Regions from separate parts of the Homo sapiens genome. Here regions 2 and 3 are each linked to region 1. Evidence: fine-mapped expression QTL. A gene starts in region 1. Each other region holds a variant in brackets. All regions are shown on one strand. Distances are from middle to middle.

Region 1 (8,185 bases):
GTCTCCACATGGTCATTCTGCCACTCTACTCCATCTTACTCTCTTTTCCAGATTGCTTTTAATCATAGTTTTGATCATGTCACTATCTTCTGTAAAACCTTCTACCATTGGGAATGTAAAATGGTATGATGCTATGGAAAACAGTATGGTGGCTCCTCAAAAAAAAAAAAAAATTAAACATAAGAATTGCCATATAATCCAGCAATTTCACTTCTGGGTATATACCCCCAATAATTGAAAGCAGGGACTCCAACAGATATTTGTATACTAATGTCCACAGAAGCATCATTCACAGTGGCCAAAAGGTGAAAGTAGAATGGTGGTTACCAGAGGCTGGGGAAAAGAGAATAGGGCGTAAGCGTTTAACGTATACAGAATTTCAGTATGGGATAATGACAAATTCTGCTGATGGATGCACAACGTGAACAGGCTTAATGTCACTGAAATGTATACTTAAAGATGGTTAAATTTAGGCCAGGGGCGGTGGCTCACGTCTGTAATCCCAGCACTTTGGGAGGCCAAGGCAGGTGGATCACCTGAGGTCAGGAGTTCCAGACCAGCCTGATCAACATAATGAAACCCCGTCTCTACTAAAAACACAAAAATTAGCCGGGCCTGGTGGCACGCGCCTGTAATCCCAGCTACTCGGTAGGCTGAGAAAGGAGAATCGCTTGAACCCGAGAGGCGGAGGTCGCAGTGAACCGAGATTGCACCATTGCACTGCAGCCCCGGCAACAAGAGCAAAACTCCATCTCCTAAAAAAAAAAAAAAAAAAAAATGGTTAAACCTGTTTAAAAGCAAAACAAAAAACTTCTACCACTCACTTCCCGTATCAGAAAATAAAGCCCAAGAGCCTTAATTTAACCATAATAATGTATCTTTCCATGATTCTTCTTCCATTCCCTCTTACTCTGTGTTTCCTCAACTGATCCCTCGCTTCTTCTATTTGCTTTAGTGGCTGCCTACATGTCTTCCCTAATTTTACTCATTTTTCAAGACCCAGTTCAAATGTCACATCCTTGCAAATCTTTCCTGAACTCCTCCCACTATTTCATACTAAGTGGAAGTAAGCTTTCCCTTTTTGAACTCCAGCAGCACATGAACTATATCTTTTAGTGCCGCTTTTCTATTTTTTGAGACAGAGTCTCGCTCTGTCACCTAGGCTAGAGTGCAATGGTGCGATCTCGGCTCATTGCAACCTCTGCCTCCCAGGTTCAAGTGATTCTCCTGCCTCAGCCTCCTGAGTAGCTGGGATTACAGGCGTGTGCCACCATGCCCGGCTAATTTTTGTATTTTCAGTAGAGACGGGGTTTTACCATGTTGATCAGGCTGGTCTCGAACTCCTGACCTCGTGATCTGCCCGCCTCAGCCTCCCAAAGTGCTGGAATTACAGGTGTGAGCCACCACGCCTGGCCAGCGCTGCTTTTCTTTTAGGCCAAAGGTACACAATGAGATAGAGAGGTGTGGCTTAAGGAAGTCCAGCTGGCTGTCTAGACAGGTTCTGTTATACAGTGCTATAACCTTAAGGAATTTACCATGATACAAGAACTGATGTTTAACCTTGCAAACTCAGAAACCTAATTTTAATAGTAAGCAGAAAGTTGAACCATTTCCTGGGGGTAGGGGGTGTCTTGTATTTGCCAAGCTCACAGAAACTTTTATATAAAGAGGAATCTAACTGATTAGTTACAATGAAAAATACAATGATCAAAAGAACTAGAATACTCTAGGTGGCAGATCACTTAATTCTGTCCCTATCGCCAAGACACTTGCTGGGTGAACATAGAGGAAAGCATGTTGATCTTAAGAAGTATTTCTTAGCTGAGGCAGTCTGAGATATTCCCATCCACTACAGAGATGACACGGGCAAGGAAATCCTAATGCTCAGTGTGGCTTAATTGAGATGAGGCTTAGAGGGGCAATGGTAGTGCTAGCCTTTGTGACTGCCTTGTTTTGGGCTGCCATGGCTGAGCAAGCCCTTTTGTTCACAGAATCTCTCTCCAAACAGGGTACAGAATGGCTGACGAGATTGATTAGGTTCCATTTATTAAATTACAATATCTACCTTCTTCAGGTTCCTCCCATATGCCCTTTATCAGAGTTTGTTTTGTTTTGTTTGGTCATGTTTGTAAAAAAGGTCTTGGCTTACCCCCATGGATAGCTAATTTCATGGTTGTATTAGTCTGCTTAGCTAGCATGTTATGCTGCAGTAACAACGAAAACAATCTCAGTGGCTTACAACAAAGGTTTATTTATTGTTCACACAACATTACAGGTTATGTGTGTCAGCTGTCGCTCTGCACATCTTCATTCTGGGACCAAAGCTGAAGAGGGAGCTCTATTTAGGACATGCTGCTCTTGTGTCAGAGGAAAGATAATATGGCAAAATTGTAAGATAGCTCATAAATTTCTGCTCAGAAGTGGTTCATGCCATTTCTTTCTTTCTTTTTTTGAGACAGAGTCTCACTCTGTCGCCCAGGCTGGAGTGCAGTGGCGTGATATTTGCTCACTGCAACCTCCAACTCCCTGGTTAAAGCAATTCTCCTGCCTCAGCCTCCCGAGTAGCTGGGATTGCAGGTGCCTGCCACCACACCTGGCTAATTTTTTTATTTTTAGTAGAGACAGGGCTTCACCATCTTGGCCAGGCTGGTCTTGAACTCCTGACCTCGTCATCCACCCACCTCGGCCTCCCAAAGTGCTGGGATTACAGGTGTGAGCCACCGTGCCCGGCCGGTTCATGCCATTTCTACTCATATTTCATTGGTCAAAACAAGGCCAAGCTTGACGACATTAGGGTGAGAAGTCTTTCACCCTAATCTCCTAGGGACAGGCCAGATAGCAACGGCTTTAGAAAGGGAAGGGCGGAGGCTATTGATAATAAAGACTATAGCAAGGACTAATATTAGGCTTATATGTATCAATTGACTGTTATCAGTTATAACATTGACTATTAAAATACTGAAATACTCTAGTACTACCTGGTAAATAGCTGCTGTCCCAAACCTCCTGACCACTCCCTTCCCCTGGGATCCCTTGGGACCTCCTATTCACAAACCAGCAACTGAAGGGTTAACACCTAGCACAGACGTATACCTCCAGGATCCTAGCTGCATTTCTAATTCTGCTTCATCTATGCTTGAGCACTACTTGTTGTTAAATATACTTAATATCACTCTTAGCTAATTTCCTCTATGTAGATTTTTATTTATTTCTGAGGGCAACCCAACTTCCAGGCTCTTGGAAGGAAATAGACTGCAGCCCCTAAGTGTGATCAATACTTAATTATAACAATAATCACTAATAATAACTTGTGCTGCTTCATTGTAACTAAATGTACACTTTTACATTTTTTGGCAAGCATAGTATATGCAATAAGTACTCAATAAACATCTGTAGAGAGACTTATTTAGCTTTTTTCCATTAGCTACATCTGTCTCTACAATCTCAACATACTATTCTCTTGAATCTGTTTTTAATTTTATGCCATTTCTCATGTCTGAAAATGTCATTATAAGTAACTTTTTTTTTTTCTGAGACAGGGCCTCGCACTGTCGCCCATGCTAGAGTGCAGCGAGACACTCGTAGCTCTTACCAGTAACTTCTTTATAACACTTTTGCAATTTACGAAGCACTCTCACATTATTTCATTCACTCTCCCCAACATTACCAAAAGTTAGGAATTAGATCTTTTTACAGATGAAGGAATTGAGACTCCCTGAAGTCAAGTGTCTTATAGTTAGGTTTTGTTCATTCATTCATCAAATAGAGTGCCTGATGTGAGATTTATTGAAACTGGATTTGAAAACAATTTTCCTGAATTCAAGTCGAGGGTTTACTCCACTATTCTCAATTACTTTATCACCAGGGTTATAAACCCAAAGGAAGTGAGTAACAACAGTGTGATTTTATTGAGGACCCATGCAACACTAGTCTCAGAAAGGCTCCAGTGTCATTTGTAAAATTCAAGGTTACCATCAGCAGAGGCAGTCATTCCTCTCTGCGCTTGTTACCTAATGCACTAACTCTCACTGTAGGTAATTCCATTCAAGACACATTTGATGACTATACCTACAGGTTTTGAAGTTATTCGGATGGGGTTTTGACACTTACTAGCTGTGGGGACTTAGATCAAGTTACTTAACCTTTTTGAGCTTCAGTTTTATCATTTGTAAAATGGATACAATCCTGATGCCTTTGGACCAAGTGGTCACGGAAATGAAAGAGATAAGTATGAAAAAATCCATGCTCATAGTAGCTGTGGTTTCCAACTGCGTGATAAAACTTTAAAATCTGCATTCAAATAAGAACAACTATGTCGACGTAAGGTTACAAGCTAACTATTCTTGGTAAGTACTGTTCTTTATTCTAGAGGACATCACTTTACAGTTTGGTGCTAAATGCTCTTTTATGAATTTAAGGTGCCAGTAGCTGTCTACTTGAACGGCATGCTTAATCTGGAACGCCATGTCGACCTTCATCCCCCAGTTCTTTCTCCCCAAATTAAAAACACAAATACACACACACGCCCCTACTTAGTTCCTAAAACTCAAGGGCACGCGCACACACCTACTTATTTCCTAAAATTCAAGCTCGCACCAAGGAGATCCACAAGGATAGGCAGGGTGGTGGAGGTCACTGGGCAGCGCCTCCGGATCCCCCGAAAGGGGGCGGGGTCAAAACTCAGATCTCGAGCTCCCGAAAGGGGGCGGGGTTAAAACTCTCAGATCTCATTCCGCCTCCCTCTGTCGTCGCCCCTTCCCAATTCTCGCGAGACCTCAAGGAGCACAGCTTCTGCGCACCGCACGATACTGGGAGTCCAGGCGCCAAGGGAGGGGGAAGGGAAAAGGGGAAACGGTGCAAACGGCGTGGCCGCCATCTTGCTTGTGCCCCCGCTTCGCGCGCGCTCCGTTCTCCGTGACGCACACTTCCCCCTCCCCTCCGCCGCGCCTGGGCCTCTGCATTGCCCGACTCCGTAGGAGCGCGGGGGCGGCTCCTGCTCTTCCTGGACTCCTGAGCAGAGGTGTGTGAGTGTGCGGGAGTTTCTGTGCGAGGGTGATAGGGAAGCGGCGGCGGGGGGAGGGGCAGCGCTTCCCGCCTTCGCCAGAGACCTCACTTCCTCGCGCGGCCGCTGCTGTAGCTCGGTCCGTCCTGCCCGCCGCCATGTTGTGCTCTTGCCTGGCCCGCTGCTGTCGCCGCCGCCGCGCTCGTGGGGTCCGTGTGCCTCGTCGGCCCGGCCCGCGGGCTTTCTCCCATTGGCGGAAGGCGACGGCGGGGGGGCTCGCTCGTGATTGGTCGGTGGCGGGGAGGCCGCGGACCTGGCACCTTATTGGACGCGCCAGCTCCGGTCTAGGGGGTGATGAAGGAATCTGAGGCTGCGGGGATGCGCGCGTCTTGGGCTAGGGCGGCTGGGGCAATGACCCCCTGCGGCGCAGGCGTGGGGTTGCGGCGAGAGGGCGAGCCTAGAGGCTTTAAGGGGGAAGAGAGGGTGATGGCCTGGCAGGTACTTTGGGGGTAGCTTAGGCCATGGCCTGGGAATGGGGGACACTCACTTTCAGAGGTGCTTTTCCTGGTACATGCATGGCCCAAGATTGGGGTGTGCAGGCCCTCAGGGTTCCAGGCTTGGAAACACCGAAACCCAAGTGACAGGCTGAGAGTCTTCGAGATCCAGGGTTGCTAATGTGACCCAGTTTGGAAGTGGCCCTGAAGTCCACGGTGTGAGTGTATGGTGTAGGAAGAAAGGCATCAGGGCTAGGGGCATAGCTGAACGGTAGAATCGGATCAGGGATTTTGCTGGAGAGTGCAAGCATTCAAACACTGAGGTTTTGGTGGAGCCCTGGAGTCCAGAGTCAACGGACCTGGGATGTGATGTGAGGAGCAAGTAAACCGAGAGAGGAATGCTATTGAGAAGTGTGCTCTGTCCGAGCCTAGGAAGCACAGCATTAAGTAGTATCAGATTTAAAGTGACAAAATCTGATATAGGAAGCATTTTAGGGGACATTTTCGGACTTGGGAAGTGTATTAATAGAACAGTTATACATTATTGAGTCTCAGGACCATACAAGTAGTTTTGAGATGTTGTATATGAAATTTGCTGCTCTAGGAAGGATACAGGTCATGGCTGAGTTTCCAAAGCCACATTAGCAAATATTAGGTAGTTGGTAGTTATTTGTTGAGTAAATATTGTTAGGTTCCCCTTTAAGGGAAAGGGAGCTAGCCAGAAATTTTCGGTCTTGGTTTATTTCCTTGTATATGTGCCTAAAAAGTATACCCATTCCCATGTGTACTTTGAATTTTTTGTTTGTTTTTTCAAATAAGCAGCTCCAAACCAAAAAAAAGCCCATGCATAGCTTCTTAAGGAACAGGACTTGTCAACACTTTCTGGTTCATATTCAAAAAGTTTTTATTCCAATCCAGAGTCGTTCCAGTCAACTTGTTGGGAATATGTTCTTTTCCACTGAATCTGAATCGTAGTTACTTGTATTGCTTTACATTTGCTCGTCCCAGTGTGTGAGGGCCATGGAAACACATTTATGTTAAACATCTGTGTTTTCCTAATTTGTTTTTCCTTGTTTTTGTTAGGTAGTCCTTTTTAGCTTTAGATGGTACTCTTCTGTTTTCATACCAATTTCAAGAAACTCCTAGGGTTTTCAAATTTAGTTTTATGTGAATGCAACTACATTTTCTGGAGAAGGGAATTGATAAGTAGCAGAGGAAGAGAATTGCTATTTTGGGGCATATTTTAACTCCAATAGGTAGGCATTATCGTCCCCATATTGCAGATGAGGAAACTGAGGATCAGAGAGTTTAAGTAGCTTGTCTGGTGTCACTCAGTAAGTGGTTGAGCTAGAATTCAAACCCTGGTTGCCTGATGCCAAAGCCTGTAATTTTATCTGCTACATCAGCTATCAACATAAACCTGACTAATGAAACTTCCAGATAATTTTGTATTTCCAAGTGGATCATCTACTTTGATTTCTGGGTGTTTAGAGTGTATAAAATGGAAGACTATAATTCTTAAGAATTTCTTGTGCTGCTTAAGGATTCAGACCACAGAATTGTAACCATAGAGAATATGGGTTCTTCAGCTAGGTATTCAAATCATATCCCTTGGCTTCTATTGTGAAAGGGAAGATTTACCAAGTAAATTGCTGCATTTTTTCCTGAATCCAGGTAGATAATGGGGAAAAATATGTACAGAAACTTGAAGAATCTGCATTCCTTAAAACCAAGCTTCAGAATATTGCAGATAGTCTTTCTGTATGTGGAGGTAATTTATGCCAAATGGCGAGGAACTACCAAGTGCCTAGTGTAAAGAGCTCACTGGAGAGGTTTTTCAAGCATCACCAGTTCCTTAGGGTGTCCCCAAATACCAGGACCTATTCAAAGGCCTAGTGCTTTCTTCAGACTGTGGGATATTGATTCTAGGATATGCTTATCCTGAACAATGTGTAAAATTAAGACTGGATAGGACAAAATATTTGCAGTTCCAATTTTGCATGGAAACCTTTAAATCAGGGTTTGAGAGGAGACCAGTGAGTTGGAAATCTTAATTGCTTTATGTCTTGATGTGCTTAGGTGAAGCCCTCCCTCATTTTTGTTTACAATAACGTTTCACTGTGGAAGATAGAGGCAAAGCTACAAGTGAAAATAGGGTTTGCCATGTATTTTGTACATTGGTCATTTCAGCCTCATTTGGCTCAGTCATCAAGTTAACCAAATATGAAGAATGCTGTAGATCTATAACTTAGTTTCGTTTTTAGTAAGACTAGACAAGGTGATAAAAATGAGTGTATATGTACACCTTTTTTTTTTCAGCAGGCATTTCTGGAGCAACCTGCCCTTCAACATTGGTGACCACCTTCATTCCATGTTAGCCCCTTATACCCATGGCCACCTTGTTAAGATCTGGAATTGACCACTCTAGAAATCTTGAACTCTCAGGAAATCTCAGTAGATCTGAGTTTATGTTGAAAACTTGTGAACCTCAGCTTTTTCTTCAGGCAGAAATCATACTAAGATTTATACTTTATAGGCTGTGTTCATGGCATCTTATTTAATTCTTATGACAAATCTGTTATCTCATTTATACTTACACATTTTTTTCTTTGGTCAGAACTACTAGAGACTGGGCGCAGTGGCTCACGCCTCTAATCCCAGCGTTTTGGGAGGCTGAGGCAGGTGGTAT
Region 2 (8,185 bases), 210 kb before region 1:
ATCTCAGCTCACTGCAACTCCTGCCTCCCAGGTTCAAGCGATTCTCCTGCCTCAGCCTCCTGAGCAGCTGGGACTACAGGTGCCTGCCACCACGCCTGGCTAATTTTTGCATTGCTTTTTACATATTTGATAGCAGTTTTTTTTTTATTGGTTACAAAACCTAAGCCCATATACAGAATTAGGAACACAGTTAGATGCCTCTTTTGAAAGAACATTTTAGTCTTTTTAAACTGAGTTAAAAAAAAAAAACCATGCAATTTTCAAACACTGTTTTGAAAACTTAAAAGTGCAGCAATATACTTAGTTTCCTTTATCTACAAAATGGTGCAATTCCACTTCAAAACTGGTAAGGTCACAACAAATTGAATCAAGGAAATGCATACAAATGTCTGCACTACTTGATGCTAATGTTTATTTGAATGTTAGTTTGTACTTTCAAACATGAGAGGAAATAGGAATCATCACAGTAGAGGCCCAATTTTAATCATAATGTGTGCAAATTTAAATTAAAATTAAAAGGTAGTCAGTTAAGGAAAGTCCAGAAGAAACTAAACTGGAAGGAGTACAATTCACAATATCAAGAAGATTTGGACTTCAAGGGTTTCATCGAAGTTTGTGACCTTAATTAGCTTTTACGTTGTTACAGTTTTTATATTTTTAGTAGAGCTGGGGTTTCACCATAATGGCCAGGCTGGTCTCGAACTCCTGACCTCGTGATCCACCTGCCTCGGCCTCCCAAAGTTCTGAGATTACAGGCATGAGCCACTGCGCCCGGCCTGGTTGTATGTATTTAAGAAATTTTCACAGAGCAGGTAGCATTGATTTGGGCCTTGAAGAATGTCTTAGGTTTTTTGTGTAGATTTGGGGAAAGGATACAAAAGTGGGTGCCTTGAAGAAAATGGGGCATCTTTAGTCTGACTGAGAATCTTTAGTCTGAAAGACTAATAATGTGGTGGGTGGGTGGGTGTGTCCCAGGTATAAAGTAGCAGTACCCATTGTTGAGAAAATATGCTTTGGGCAGATTGTAGAGTGCCTTGAAGTCCATGGTGAAGTGTTTGGATTTTTCCTTCTTGTCAGTGGGGAACCTTTGAGGATTTTTGAACAAAGGAGTGGCCTGTTAGAGCTGTGCTTTTGGACCAGTATTGACCATTGGTAGAGTTTTTTGGAGGGGGGAGTGGGATTTAAAGGATTCTCCATTTAAATACTTTGTTCTCTCATACATAGTTTTTGATCACTGGGAAACATTAATGCCCAAAGCGACTTGCAGCAGGTCCTCCTCACTAAGGAGGCTTCAGGCTGCTCTTGAGTCACTCTCAGTGTCCCTCTTTGTGAACCTTTTTGGGGGAGGAGCCACATTGAGTGGGTCTGCAGGCAATTTCTTTATTTGGGAGATTTGGGGAGATGCAAAGCTCATGGCTCTTTTCCTTCCCCAGCTCTGCTGTCTCAGGATGCTGAGGACGTAAAGACCCAGAGAGAAAGTTTAGAGGATGAAGTGACCCCTGGACTCCCGACAGCAGAATCCCAGGTGAGTAGGGATTCATCTCATTTTCTTGACATTGCTTCTCCTGTTTTTAGGGTATATAACCTGTCTTTTTTGCAGAGGTGGGAGTGGTGGTGAGGTAGGGTATTAAGACTAACAAATTCAACCTAAGGAGCTCAATGCAAGTTGTCCTTTTACAGAAAATTGGGCTCCAGTGGTGGCAATTCCCCTACTTATAGGGGTCTCCCTCCATGTCACTCTTGTTTCTCACCAACATCTGAATCTAGTATGATGCTACTTTCTATAAAGAAAGTGAAATGAGAGATATAATTCTAGCCCCTAAAAACCAACCGATACCACATGAGATCTAAGAGAAATCTCAATGAAATACTCAAAATCAAAATGTGTAAGAAGGTTCTTTCTTAGTGATGTACATGAATTACTGTGAACTTTGAGAGGTGACCCTTAGTGTAATATTGAAAACAGAGGTCAAACCAGAACCAAAGGAGAAGTGAGTAGAAAAGAAATAGGCCACACAGTGCACACATCAGACGGGCTGGCCAGAAAAGCTAGAGTAGCCACTGAGAGCAGCTACAACAGCATGTCACAAATGGGATAGTCAGTACTGCCTATCGGAAACAGAGATGAAATGGAAGGAAAATTGTAGAATAAATGTGAAAGAAAGACTTAAAAGAGGAGATCTTATTGGAGGACAGAAGGGTTTGAAGTGAAATGAACTGGAGTGCTGAAATTAGATGGTATAACATTTGTCTAGTTGCTCAGTGATCTGGGGCAATTACTTTAGCTTTTGTTTTTTTTTGAGACAGTTTCAAGTTTAAAGTAAAAAGATGAAAAAAGCTATACCGTACAAACAATAATTAAAAGAACATTGGAGGCATATATTATATCACGCAAAGTGGACTTCTGGAAAAGGAGTATTCCTAGGCAAAAAGGGACATTTCATAATAATAAGAGGGTCAACAATTCTAAGTGTTTATACATGTGATGACAGAACTTCAAAATAAAGCAAAATTGACAGAACTAAAGAGAGATATAGACAAAATCACAGTAATTAGAAACTTTAACACTTCTTTCTCAGTAATTGATGTAACCAGTAGACAAAAACTCATCAAGGATACAGAAGATTTGAACAACACTATCAACCAATTTAACCTAATTAACACTTACGGAACACTACGTCTAACAACTACAGAACATATATTCTTTTTAAAAATAGAGATCTCATTTTTAAATGAGATCTGCGGGTGGGGTGGAATAAACTGGTGGATCAACTGGGGGTGGAGTGGAATACCGTTTAAAAAGGGGCATGAAGGAACGTTCTGAGATGGTGGAAATGTTCTCTATCTTGATTACATTATGTTACATATGTCAAAATCAAACCATACACCTTTTTTAATTTTTTTTTTTTTTTTTTTTAGAGACTGAGTCTCACTTTGTAGCTCAGGCTGCAGTGCAGTGGTACAATCATAACTCATTGCAACCTCAAACTCTTGGGCTCAAGCAGTTCTCCTGCCTAAGCCTCCCAAGTAGCTAGGACTACAGGAACATGCCACCATACTTTGCCAATTAAAAAAATGACAGAAAAAATAGGGTCTTACTATGTTGTCCAACTGGTCTCAAACTCTTCAGCTCAAACAATCCTTCTGCCTCGGCCTCCCAAAGTGCTGGGATTACAGACGAGCCACTGCACCCAGCCCAAACTGTACACTTTCTTAGTGTATTTTCCTGTATGTAAATTGTACTTCAGTTTAAAAAAATTTAATCCTTTAAACCCATCAGTTTATGATAAATGTAGGAAGTGAAAAATTCCAGATAAGTAGAATGTAGCGATAACTCTTCAGACTATTATCGTTACTTCTTCCATATTACTAGAAATAAAGCTGCAATATATTCCAATCCTAGATGGCAGATATTAGCATTTGACCTTCTTATTTGAGGACACTGAGATTGTAAAAAGCTTAAGTGGCCGGGCATGGTGGCTCATGCCTGTGGTCCCAGCACTTTGGGAGCCAGAGGCAGAAAGATCACCTGAGGTCAGGAGTTCAAGACCAGCCTGTCCAACATCGAGAAACCCCGTCTCTACTACAAATACAATATTAGCTGGACGTGGTGGTGTGTGCCTGTAATCCCAGCTACTCTGGCGGCTGAGGCAGGAGAATCACTTGAACCCGGGAGGCGGAGGTTGCATGAGCCGAGATTGCGCCATTGCACTCTAGCCTGGGCAACAAGAGCAAAACTCCGTCTCAAAAAAAATAAATAAATAAAATAAATAAAACAATCAGTATGGTTGGGTCTAAGTGTATACTTTTGTTTGCTATTTGTCCTATCTAGCCTTTGTTTATTTGTTTCTCTTTTCCTGCCTTCTTTTTGTTTGGTTTTGTTTTTTAAAGACAGAGTCTCCCTCTGTCACCCAGGCTGGACTGCAGTGGTGCGATCTCAGCTCACTACAACCTCCACCTCCTGGGTTCAAGCGATTCTCCAGCCTCAGCCTCCCGAGTAGCTGAGATTACAGGTGCCTGCCACCACACCTGGCTAATTTTGTATTTTTAGTAGAGATGGGGTTTCACCATGTTGGCTAGGCTGGTCTCAAGCTCTTAACCTCAAGTTACCTGCCCACCTCAGCCTCCGAAAGTGCTGGGATTACAGGTGTGAGCCACCGTGCCCAGCCTTTTTCTGCCTTCTTTTGCATTGAATCATTTTTCCAGTATTCCATTTGATGTCCTCTAATGACTTTTAAGCTACAGTTCTTTGATTTTTTTTTTTTAATTGAGACAGAGTCTTGCTCTGTTGCCCAGGCTGGAGTGCAGTGGTGCAATCTTGGCTCATTGCAACCTCTACGTCCTGGGTTCAAGCAATTCTGCCTTAGCCTCCTGAGTAGCTGGGACTACAGGC[G/A]CGTGCCACCACACCCGGCTAATTTTTTTTTTGTATTTTTAGCAGAGACGAGGTTTTACTGTGTTAGCCAGGATGGTCTTGATCTCCTGACCTCGTGATCCGCCCGCCTCTCCCTCCCAAAGGGCTGAGATTACAGGCATGAGCCACTGCGCCTGGCCTGCTTTTTTTTTTTTTTTTTTTTTTTTTTGATATGGAGTTTCACTCTTGTTGCCCAGGCTGGAGTGCAGTGGCATGATCTCGGCTCACTGCAACCTCTGCCTTCCAGGTTCAAGCGATTCTCCTGCCTCAGCCTCTCGAGTAGCTGGGATTACAGGCTCCCACCACCATGCCTGGCTAATTTTTGTATTTTTAGTAGAGACTGGGTTTTGCCATGGTGGCCGGGCTGGTCTCGAAATCCTGACCTCAGGTGATCCACCCACCTTGGCCTCCCAAAGTGCTGGGATTACAGGCGTGAACCACTGAGTCTGGCCAGTTCTTTATTTTTAGTGGTTGCCCTAACAACCACTAAAAACAATCATATTATATGTGAGGCCATATAATATTAATTCAAAGTAACTGTGGAATGTTACAAATGTATTTAACATTACACATGTTACAAAAGTAACATTCCACAGTTACTTTGAATTAATGTTTTATGGCTTCACATATCATATGAAAGACTTACGTTATATTTTCATATACTCCTTCCCACTCTTAGTGTGTTGTCAATATACATTTTGTTTTACATGTAAAAACACCACAGTATATTGTTCTTAATTTTGCTTTTAATAGTAAACTGTCTTATAACAAATTATGAAAATGGAAAAAAACATGTCTTTCTTATTTGCCCTCATATTTATCCATTTAGGCACTCTTCCTTTTTCCCTTTCATTCCAGGTTTCTATCTTGCATCATTTCCCTTCAGCTTAAAGAACTTTGTTTAGCATTTCTTATAATGTGGGTGTTCTGGTGACAAATTCTCACTTTTATTGATCTAAACATTTCTTTATATTATCTTCCTATTTGAGGATCTTATTGGATAAAGAATTCTAGGTTGACTGCTTTTTCTTTAAGTAGTTTAAAAATGTTCCATTATCTTTTAGATTGTATTATCTGTGATGAGAAGGCAGGTGTTATTCTTTTTATGTGATGTATCTGTTTTATATCAACTTTTATCTGATGTGCATAGGTGTGATTTGTTGTTGTTGTTGTTGTTTTTTGAGACGGAGTCTTGCTCTGTCACCCAGGCAGGAGTGCAGTGGCATGATCTTGGCCCACTGCAACCTCCACCTCCTGGGTTCAAGCAATCCTCTCACATCAGCCTCTCAAGTAGCTAGGATAACAGATGTAAACTACCACACCCGCCTTATTTTATTTTATTTTATTTTTTATTTTGTGTATTTTTAGTAGAGATGGGGTTTCACCATGTTGGCCAGGCTGGTCTCAAACTCCTGACCTCAAGTGATCTGCCACCATAGCCTCCCAAAGTGCTGGGATTACAGGCATGAGCCACTGTGCCTTGCTGTGATTTTTGAGTTTATCCTTTTTGGGGTTTGCTGAGCTTCTTGGATCTGTGGGTTGATTTTTTTTCCTATTAGTTTGGAAAATCTTCAGCCATTATTTTTCAAATATTTTTTCTACCTATTCCCTCTTCTGAGATTGCTCTTTCTCCCTCCCTGCTTCCCTTCCTCCCTTCCTCCCTCCTTTCCTCCCTCCCTCCCTTCCTTCCTTCCTTCCCTTCCTCCCTCCCTCCATCCCTCCCTCCCTCCTTTCTTCCTCCCTCCCTCCCTCCCTCCCACCACTACCTCTCAGGCTTAAGTGATCCTCCTGCCTCAGCCTCCTGAGCAGCTGGGGCTACAAGTGTGCGCCACCATGCCTGGCTAATTTTTGTATTTTTTTTTGTAGAGACAGGGTCTTCCTATGTTGCCTAGGCTGGTCTCAAACTCTTGAGCTCAAGCAGTCCTCCTGCCTTGGCCTTCCAAAGTGCTAGGATTACAGGCAGGAGCCATCCCACCTAGCCCTGAGATTCTAATTACATGTATAATAGACCACTTGATATTATCCCACAGATTTTTTTCTCTTGGTACTCTAGTTTGAATAATATTTATTGACCCATCTTAAGTTTCACTGATCTTATCTCATCATGGTCTAATCTACTTTAAGCCCATCCAATGAATTTTTAGATATTGTCTTTTTCACTTGTAGAATTTTCATTTACAGTTGATTTTTTTTTTTTTTTTTTAAGATGGAGTCTTGCTCTGTCACCAGGCTGGAGTGCAGTGGCGAGATCTCGGCTCACTGCAACCTCCGCCTCCCGGGTTCAAGTGATTCTTCTGCCTCAGCCTTCCGAGTAGCTGGGACTACAGGCATGCACCACCATGCCCAGCTAATTTTTGTATTTTTAGTAGAGACAGGGTTTCACCATGTTGGCCAGGATGGTCTTGATATCTTGACCTCATGATCCGCCCGCATCAGCCTCCCAAAGTGCTGGGATTACAGGCATGAGCCACTGCGCCCGGCCTACAGTTGATTCTTGAGCAGCGCAGGTTTGAACTGTGCAGGTCCACTTCTATATAGACTTTTTTCAATAAATATATTGAAACATTTTTTGGAGATTTGTGACAATTTGAAAAAACTTGCAGATGGACCATGTAGCCTAGGAGTATCAAAAAAATTAAGAAAAAGTTAGGTATGTTATGAATACATAAAATATATGTAGGTACTAGTCTATTTTATCATTTACTACCATAAGAGATACACGTATCTATTATAAAAAGTTAAAAATTTTCAAAGCTTATGTGCACAGACTATTCATGGTGCCATTCTCAGTTGAGAGAAATGTAAACAAATGTAAAGATGCAGTATTAAATCACTACTGCATAAAATAAACTATAGTACACCTAGTGTATTAGTATGATAATTTTATAGCTATCTCCTGTGGCTATTGTAGTGCGCTCAGGTGTTTCAAGTATTTACTTAAAATTCAGTGTGATGCTAAGCATCTCTGCATTAGCACTTCATCTCTCCGGTAAATTGCATATCACAGTAAAAAGTGATCTCTCAGGCCGGGCGCGGTGGCTCACGCCTGTAATCCCAGCACTTCAGGAGGCTGAGGTGGGCGAATCACCTGAGGCCAGGAGTTCGAGACCAGTCTGACCAACATGGTGAAACCCGGTCTCTACTAAAAATACAAAAATTAGCTGGGCGTGGTGGCGTGCGCCTGTAATACCAGCTACCTGGGAGGCTGAGGCAGGAGAATCACTTGAACCCGGGAGGTGGCAGTGAGCTGAGCTCGCACCACTGCACTCCAGCCTGGACAACAGGGTGAGACTCTGTCTCAAAAAAAAAAAAAAAAAAGTGATCTCTAAGCCGGGCACGGTGTCTCATGCCTGTAATGCGAACACTTTGAGGGGCCAAGGCAGGAGTGCATGTGTATATACATACATACATGTGTGTGTTTTGTATGTATACACACACACACACACACATAGTTTATTCATGTGTTTTGATTTGTTCTATTTCCAAACCCTTTCGTCTCTCTGGTGGTTAAGGTGAGGGGCTCCTCCTAGAGCTGTGGCTGAGCTCTGGCTATCATGCAGCTTTAATTTGATTGAGTATACTTCTGATTAGCCCATGCCACAATTGCTGAGGGCTTTTCTTTTTATCTTTTTGGCATTTGAGCTTAGGAAGGGATTAGACTACAGTTCCAGACAGTTTTGTTCATTTTTGCATTAAACTCCAGCAGGGCCTCAGAATTCAAGTTCAGTAAGAATGCACAGGTCTTTGTGACAATAAGTGCGTGAGGTGGTGGGG
Region 3 (8,185 bases), 35 kb after region 1:
CCTAGTATAGCTATTGATCATTGACACACCCAAGGATTTAAATTTGGAACGTTCCCATGTTCAGCTTGAATTCTTTGCTTTTTTGGAACTAGTACATTTGTTCCAAATTTAATAGTTTAAAGGGCTTAAAAATTATTTCATGTTTATAAAAGAGATAGGAGAACATCTTTCTCTATTTTAATATGTATTTCCATGCATCTGAAACTAGGCTTTTTAAAGAAATATGTCAAAAGCAAAGTAAGTCTAAATTATAGAGAAAAAGAAGCTAGTTGGTCTTTAGGCTCGGTACTGTATCTGGGACTCTTCAGACCAGTAGTTGGTGTCTTGTCTAGCTTCAGGCAGCCATGATGATATGATGCCATCTGGCATTTGTATGAAGCTTGCTATTTTTTGAGGCCTTCTAACATGTGTTTTACCATTTGTGTGTTTCAGCTGCTCTGTGGGATGTTGCTTTAGATGAATAGAGAAGTTTCTAAGAAGTTAAGAGATTTGCTCAAGATCACAGTTCGCCAGAGAGCTAAGAACCCCCAGGTCCAATACATTTTATTTATTTATGTATTTACCTCGTGCTTTAGTGCCCCCAACTGTTCGCAGCTGAGTATTCATAGGTGCTGCTAACCTGCCTAGAGACATGCAAAGGGGAAGGATAAAACAGAAAAGAAAAAAGAGTGACAGCTTAAACAGTGCAAAAAGTGGGAAAGAGCAAGTTATAATAAATCAAGACAGAATTTTAGAGCTTTTGCATTTTGACTCATCATTTATTGTATTGTGATCTTGAGCAAGTAATTTGATATTCAACCCTCAACCTTATCTGTAAAATTGGAATAATATTGGTAAATTTATCACTGAGCTAAGTAAGGGTCAATTGAGGATGATGTATGTGGCATGTATTTTATGAACTCTGAAGCCCGTAAGTTGGCATCTATGAAACATTCTTCAGAATCACACTTCTTCCCTCTGCTAGACACACAAACACAGGATACTGCCAGAAACTGGGCAAGAGGCTGTTTGTGAATCTCAGAAGGCACCCGGTAAGAAAATGATGCTTTGTTTTAGAATACAACTTAACTTAGGCTACAGGCACTCTTTCTGTCTCTAGCTCATGTCACAATTCCTTTTCGGGATTGAGGCCTGAAAAACCAGTTACTCACCATTCTTCCTACAAGGATTTATTTACTCGTTAGGCTGGAGGGTCAGAGAGACTAACAGATACTTCTGTGGGGCAGAGGGGGTCTGGCCCAGCTTACTTCTAATTGAGGATGAACAGGTGAGGGAGGCAGGGGAGCTAAGTAACAGTTGTGTGATCTAGGACCAGCTTCTCAACTTCTAGTGTCAGTTTCCCCATCAGTAAATCAGGGATAAATAAAACACCTAACAGTGCTTTAAAACAAGATCAGAATATTATCTGAAACTTTTTCTTTTCTTTTCTTTTTTTTTTGAGACAGGATCTTGCTCTGCTGTTCCTGCTCAGGCTGGAGTGCAGTGGCGCAATCATGGCTCACTGCAGGCTTGACCACCCAGGCTCAAGCAGTCCTCCCGCCTCAGCCTCGTGAGTAGCTGGGACTACAGGTGTGGGCCACTACACCTGGCTAGTTTTTTATTTTTTATTTTCTATTGAGATGGGGGTCTCACTATGTTGCCCAGGCTGATCTCGAGCTCTTGGGTTCAAGTGATCCTCCCGCCTTGGCCTCCCAGAGTGCTAGGATTAGAGGCATGAGCTACCATGCCTGGCTGAACCTTTTTCCTTAAAGGGCCAGATATTTTAGGCTTTGTGGCTGTATGATTTTTGTTGTAACTCTTCAACTCTACTGTTTAGCATGAACAGACAATATAAACTAATTAGGGGCTGGACATGGTGGCTCACGCCTGTAATCCCAGCGTTTTGGGAGGCCGAGGTGGGCAGATCACTTAAGGTCAGGAGTTCAAGACCAACCTGGTCAACATGGTGAAACCCGTCTCTTCAAAAATACAAAAATTAGCTGGGTGTGATGGCGGGTGCCTATAATCCCAGCTGCTTGGGAGGCTGAGGTGGGAGAATCGCTTGAACCCGGGAGGTGGAGGTTGCAGTGAGCCGAGATCGTGCCATTGTACTCCAGCCTGGATGACAGACTGAGGCTCCGTCTAAAAGTAAATGAATAAATAAATAAATAATTAGGGTTGATGTCTTCCAGTGAAACTGTTTCTAAAAACAGGCTGTAGGCCAGATGTGGCCTATGAGCTGTAGTTTTTAGACCCTTGCTTTAGAATACTTCACTAAATACTTGATCCTTTTTCTTCATCATACAAAATACTGATAGTGTTTTATTGCTGTTATATATGCAGAGATGGTTTAAGTTTGAGCATTGAAAGGATGAGTAAGAATGTGTGTGAAGTAAGATGTTACATATCGTTTTCTATTCCACAGAAAAAAGTTTTCAAATGTTCTGTTCATGCCTTCCCGTCACTTTCATTGTTTATACCAGTTGCTGTGCCTTCATTTTTCTCTAGTTGTGCTACAACTATATTATGATCTGGCCCCTGTTTCAAAGATTATATTGTACTAGATACCAAATAGAAAAGTATTTTTGTTTTTGAAGGAAAAGTGGCTCTTCTGCCAGTTTGAAAATGTGTCCTTGTGTACAGATCTTTAAGGAGAGCAGTGTGCAGCCACTTCTAAGCCTAAGTCTTTTAGGAAGCATGGTTTTCCAGTAGGCACTTTGAAAAGCGGCTTCCTCTTAACACAGATATACCTTCAAACGTCAAACTTGGCATTAATCAGAGTTGGGGAAGTAGAGCTATGTTATTCATTCTTGTATTATAGTAGTGAAGACTATTCAGTAGCCTGCCAGTAAATATGACCAGCTGGTACCCAGCTATGTAAGGGTTTAGAATGTAAGTAATAAGGTTTCAGGCACTAAACGTAGTGCCTGAACTTAGTTTCCTGCATGACTATATAAAAACCTTAGATGAGTTTAAATAGAGACTATTGAACCTTCTCTTCTCTCTAGTCACTTTGCCTTCCCTTGTATTCATTCATTTATTGCATCTTCAAGTAGTGAAGTGTAGGACTTCCCCACCAAACCACCAGAGACCCCTTTGGAATGTGTTCAGTATACATCATTGCTGGAGTGGCTTAGTAGAGTGACTGGCCCAGGGCCACCAGCTAGTAGGCAGCAAGCGTCCAGTACACAGACGTAGGTCTTTTAATTTCCAGACCAGTGCTGTTTTTCTTCTTGTGAAATTGTCAATTTTAGATTGGTTTTATTTTGGAGAGTATAAGCCTTCTTAAGAAATGCTTTTTAGCTGTTGTGATCGATAATAGCATAAGTCCTAAGGTCCATCTGTGTAAACATAAAAACCAAATAGTCTGTTAGTAAATAAATCCTACCCCCCTTTCCCTCATCCATCCATTTATTTTTATTAATATTCTTCCTTTCTCTGTATCTCCCATCATCATTTAAAATATAACATCTTACAAACCTTAGCTCATTTAAATGAAGAAACCTAGAACTAACCTCAGTAAATACCTGAGCAGTACTGGTACATAAAATGCTTGTGATAGTGCTGCCACTAGGGCAAAATACAATAAAGCTAACATTATAATAAAGAGAGTCACACAAATTTGTTGGTTTCCCAGTGCAAATAGAAGTTATGTTTATATTATAGTGTAGCCTATTAAGTGTGCAACAGCATAATGTCTAAAAAATGTGCTTATTTTAATTTTAAAATACCTTATTGGTAAAAATGCAAATTATCATCTGAACTTGCAGCAAGTCATAACCTTTTGCTGCTTGAGGGTCTTGACTTGATGATGATGGCTGCTGACTGATTCGGGTGGTAGTTGCTGAAGTTTGGGGTGGCTTTGGCAATTTCTGTGTATGTGTTTGTGTGTGTGTGTGTGTGTTTTTTTTTGAGATGGAGTTTCGCTCCTGTTGCTCAGGCTGGAGTGCAGTGGCGCCATCTCAGCTCACTGCAACCTCTGCCTCCTGGGCTCAAGCGATTCTGCTGCCCCAGCTTCCCAAGTAGCTGGGATTGCAGGCCCGCACCACCATGCCCAGCTAATTTTTGTATTTTTAGTAGAGACGGGGTTTCACCATGTTGGCCAGGCTGGTTTCGAACTCCTGACCTCAGGTGATCCACCCACCTCAGTCTCCCAAAGTGCTGGGATTACAGGCGTGAGCCACCGCATCTGGCCTGTTTTTTTTTTTTCCTCTCTCCACACTGTCACCCAGGCTGGAGTACAGTGTCATGATCTTGGCTGATTGCAACCTCTGCCTTCCAGGTTCAAGCCATCCTCCTACTTCAGCCTCCCAAGTAGCTGGGACTACAGACACGTGCCACCACACCCAGCTGATTTTTGTATTTTTTGTATAGACAGGGTCTCCTGTGTTGCCCAGACTGATCTTGATGTCTCAAACTCCTGGGCTGAAGTGATCCTCTTGCCCTAGCCTCCCAAAGTGCTGGGATTACTGGCGTGAGCCACTGTGCCTGGCTGGCAATTTCTTAAAATAAGGCAGCAGTGAAGTTTGTTGCTTCAGTTGACTCTTCCTTTCATGAAAGATTTCTCTGTAGCTGCTTTTCTGTTTGATAGCATTTTACCCAGAGTAGAGCTTCTTTCAAAACTGGAGTTTGTCCTCTCAAATCCTGCCACTATTTTATGAACTAAGTTTATATAATATTCTAATGTTCATAGCATTTTCACTGGGAGTAGGTTCCATTTCAAGGAACGACTTTCTTTGCCTTCCATAAGAAGCAACTCCTCATCTGTTAAAGTTTTATCATGAGATTGCAGCAATCCAGTCACATCTCAGGCTCCGCTTCTAATTACAGTTCTCTTGCTATTTCTACCACATCTACAGTTACTTCTTCCACTGAAGTCTCAAACCCCTCAAAATCATCCAGGAGGATTGGAATCAACTTCAGACTCCTGTTAATGTTTATATTTTGACTTCCTCCCATGAATTTTGAATGGCTTTTTTTGTTTGTTTG[T/G]TTGGTTGGTTGGTTGGTTGGTTGGTTTTTGAGACAGGGTCTTACTCTGTTGCCCAGACTGGAGTGCAGTAGCAAGATCTTGGCTCACTGCAGCCCTGATCTCCCAGGCTCAAGTGATCCTCCCACCTCAGCCTCCTAAGTAGTTGGGACAATAAGCATGTGCCACCACAACCAGCTAATTTTTGTATTTTTTGTAGAGACAGGTTTTGCCATGTTGCCCAGGCTGGTTTTGAAGTCCTGAGCTAAAGCAGTCCTCCCGCCTTGGCCTCCCAAACTGCTGGAATTACAGGCCTGAGGCACTGTGCCTGGCCATGAATATTCTTTTTTTTTTTTTTTTGAGACAAAGTCTTGCTCTGTCGCCCAGGCTGGAGTGCAGTGGCACGATTTCGGCTCACTGCAACCTCCGCCTCCCAGATTCAAGTGATTCTCCTGCCTCAGCTTTCCAAGTAGCTGGGATTTCAGGCCCACACCACCATGCCCGGCTAATTTTTGTATTTTTTTAGTAGAGACAGGGTTTCACCATGTTGGCCCGGCTGGTCTCAAACTCATGACCTTGTGATTCGCCCGCCTCGGCCTCCCAAAGTGCTAGGATTACAGGCATGAGTCACCGCGCCCAGCCTGCCATGAATATTCTTAATGGTATTTAAAATGGTGAATCCTGTCTAGAAGGTTTTCAGTTTACTCAGATCTGTCTGAGGAATCCCTGTCTATGGCAGCTGTGTCCTTATGAAGTGTTTTTATTTCTGAGACAGAGTCTCACTCTGTCACCTAGGCTGGAGTGCAGTGGTGTGATCTCGGATCACTGCAGCCTCATGCTTTGGCCTCTAGAGTAGCTGGGACTACAGGCGTGCACCAACAAGCCCTGCTAATTTTTGTGTTTTTAGTAGAGATGGGGTTTCATTATGTTGGCCAGGATGGTCTCGAACTCCTGACCTCAGGTGATCCTTCTGCCTTGGCCTCCCAAAGTGCTGGGATTATAGGCATGAGCCACTGTGCCCGGCCATGTATTTTCTTCAATAATAAGACTTGAATGTTGAAATTACTCTTTGGTCCATGGGCTGCAGAATGGATATTGTGTTAGCAGGTGTTAAAATACTAATCTCGGCTGGGCGCGATGGTTTACACCTGTAATCCCAACACTTTGGGAGGCTGAGGCGGGCGGATTACTTGAAATCAAGAGTTTGAGACCAGTCTGGCCAACGTGGCGAAACCCTGTCTTTACTAAAATTACAAAAATTAGCTGGGCGTGGTGGCGCATGCCTGCCATCCCAGCTACTCGGGAGGCTGGGCATGAGAATCGCTTGAACCCAGAAGGCGGAGGTTGCAGTGACCTGAGATGGCACCACTGCACTCCAGCCTGGGCGACAGAGTGAGACTGTCACAAAACAAAACAAAACTCTGATGGAGTTGTGCAAGCAGATTAATGTTTTTTGTTTTGTTTTTTGAGACGGAGTCTCGCTGTGCTACCCAGGCTGGAGTGCAGTGGTGCAATCTTGGCTCACTGCAACCTCTGCCTCCTGGGTTTAAGCGATTCTCCTGCCTCAGCCTCTTGAGTAGCTGGGATTACAGGTGCCCGCCACCACGCCGAGCTAATTTTTGTATTTTTAATGGAGACTGGGTTTCACTATGTTGGCCAGGCTGGTCTCGAACTCCTGACCTCAGGTTATCCGCCCGCCTTGGCCTCCCAAAGTGTTGGGATTACAGGCGTGAGCCACTGCTCCCAGCCTCCATCAGTTTTTGGATGACCAGGTATATTGTTAGTGAGCAGTAATATTTTCAAAGGAATCTTTTTTTTCTGAGCAGTAGGTCTCAACAGTGAGCTTAAATAGTCAACCACGCTGTAAACAGATGTGCTGTCATCCAAGCTTTGCTCCATTTATAGAGCACAGGCAGAGTAGATTTTGTATAATTCTTAAGGGCCCTAGAATTTTTGGAATGGTAAATGAGCATCGGCTTCCACAGGCATTGACTTCTTTGTAGCTATGAAAGTCCTTGATGGCATCTTCTTCCAGTAAAAGTCCATTTTGTCTGCACTGAAATTCTGTTGTTTAATGTAGCCAGTTGCATCAATTACTCTAGCTAGATCTTCGGGATAAAACTTGCTGCAGCTTCTACATTAGCACTTGCTACTTCACCTTATACTTTTATGTTATGGAGATGGCTTCTTTGCTTAAACCTCATGAACCAACTTTTCTTCTGCAGCCCCCTCACCTCTCTCAGCCTTCATAGAATTGAGAGTTAGGGCATTGCTCCACATTAGGCTTTGGCTTAAAGGAATGTTGTGGTTGGTTTGATCTTCTGTCTAGACCACTGAAACTTTCTTCATATCAGCAATAAAGCTGTTTGCTTTCTTATTTGTGTGTTCACTGGAGGAGCACTTTTAATTTCCTTCAAGAACTTTTTCTTTGCAGTCACAGCTTGGGTAAGTGTTTGGTGCAAGAGGCCTAGCTCTTGGTCCATCTCAGCTCTTTTTTTTTTTTTTGAACCGGAGTCTTGCACTGTCGCCCAGGCTGGAGTGCAATGGTACGATCTCAGCTGACTGCAACCTTCGCCTCCTGGGTTCAAGAGATTCTTCTGCCTCAGCTTCCCAAGTAGCTGGGATTACAGGCGCCCACTACCATGCCTGGCTAATTTTTGTATTTTTGGTAGAGAAGGGGTTTCATCATGTTGGTCAGGGTGGTCTTGAACTCCTGACCTCAGGTGATCCACCCGCCTCGGCCTCCCAAAGTGCTGGGATTACAGGCATGAGCCACCGCGCCCAGCCCCATATCAGCTTTTGATGTGCTTTCCTCACTAAGCTTAATCATTTCTAGCTTTCGATTGATTGAGTTAGAGACAGAGTTTTGTTCTGTCACCCAGGCTGGAGTGTGGTGGCATGATCATAGCTCACTGCTGCCCAAGTGATCCTCCCACCTCAGCCTTCTGAGTAGCTAGGACCACAGGTGCATGCCATCAGCAGGACTGGCTAATTTTTCTTTCTTTTCTTTTTTTTTTTTTTTTTTTTTTGGTAGAGATAGGGGGTGTCTCTCTGTGTTGCCAAGCTGGTCTCGAACTCCTGGATTCATGCAGTCAGCCCTCCTTGGTGCCTCAAAGTTCTGGGATTACAGGCGTGAGCCACCACACCTGGCCTTTAGCTTTTAAGTGAAAGATGTGAGACTGTTCTTTTACTTGAACGCTTAGAGGCCGTTGTAGGGTTATTAAGTGGCGTAATTTCAGT

What was found. PIP is the estimated chance that this variant, and not a neighbour inherited with it, causes the effect. A credible set is the group of variants that fine-mapping cannot tell apart.
Region 2: its variant is the best candidate, but not a certain one, in a credible set for the expression of NFYC in whole blood (INTERVAL, PIP 0.63).
Region 3: its variant is the best candidate, but not a certain one, in a credible set for the expression of NFYC in whole blood (TOPMed, PIP 0.81).

What each region holds. Positions count from the first base shown.
Region 1 is chr1:40,686,848-40,695,032 of GRCh38, forward strand. NFYC (nuclear transcription factor Y subunit gamma) reads left to right here and starts at 4,857. Exons shown (of 10, transcript NM_014223.5): 1 at 4,857-5,020. NFYC-AS1 (NFYC antisense RNA 1) reads right to left here and starts at 5,414. Exons shown (of 1, transcript NR_024567.1): 1 at 2,233-5,414. It also overlaps a transcript of RIMS3 not described here. RefSeq lists a silencer at 5,265-5,364 and enhancers at 5,605-5,774, 5,795-5,844.
Region 2 is chr1:40,480,330-40,488,514 of GRCh38, forward strand. It overlaps ZFP69 (ZFP69 zinc finger protein), which reads left to right. Exons shown (of 6, transcript NM_001320179.2): 3 at 1,434-1,525. Among named protein-coding and RNA genes, the nearest start is that of ZFP69, 7.1 kb to the left of the region's middle. The variant G/A (reference allele first, on the strand shown) is at 4,394.
Region 3 is chr1:40,722,244-40,730,428 of GRCh38, forward strand. The region is part of intron 1 of NFYC (nuclear transcription factor Y subunit gamma); the gene reads left to right. Among named protein-coding and RNA genes, the nearest start is that of MIR30E, 28 kb to the right of the region's middle. The variant T/G (reference allele first, on the strand shown) is at 4,969.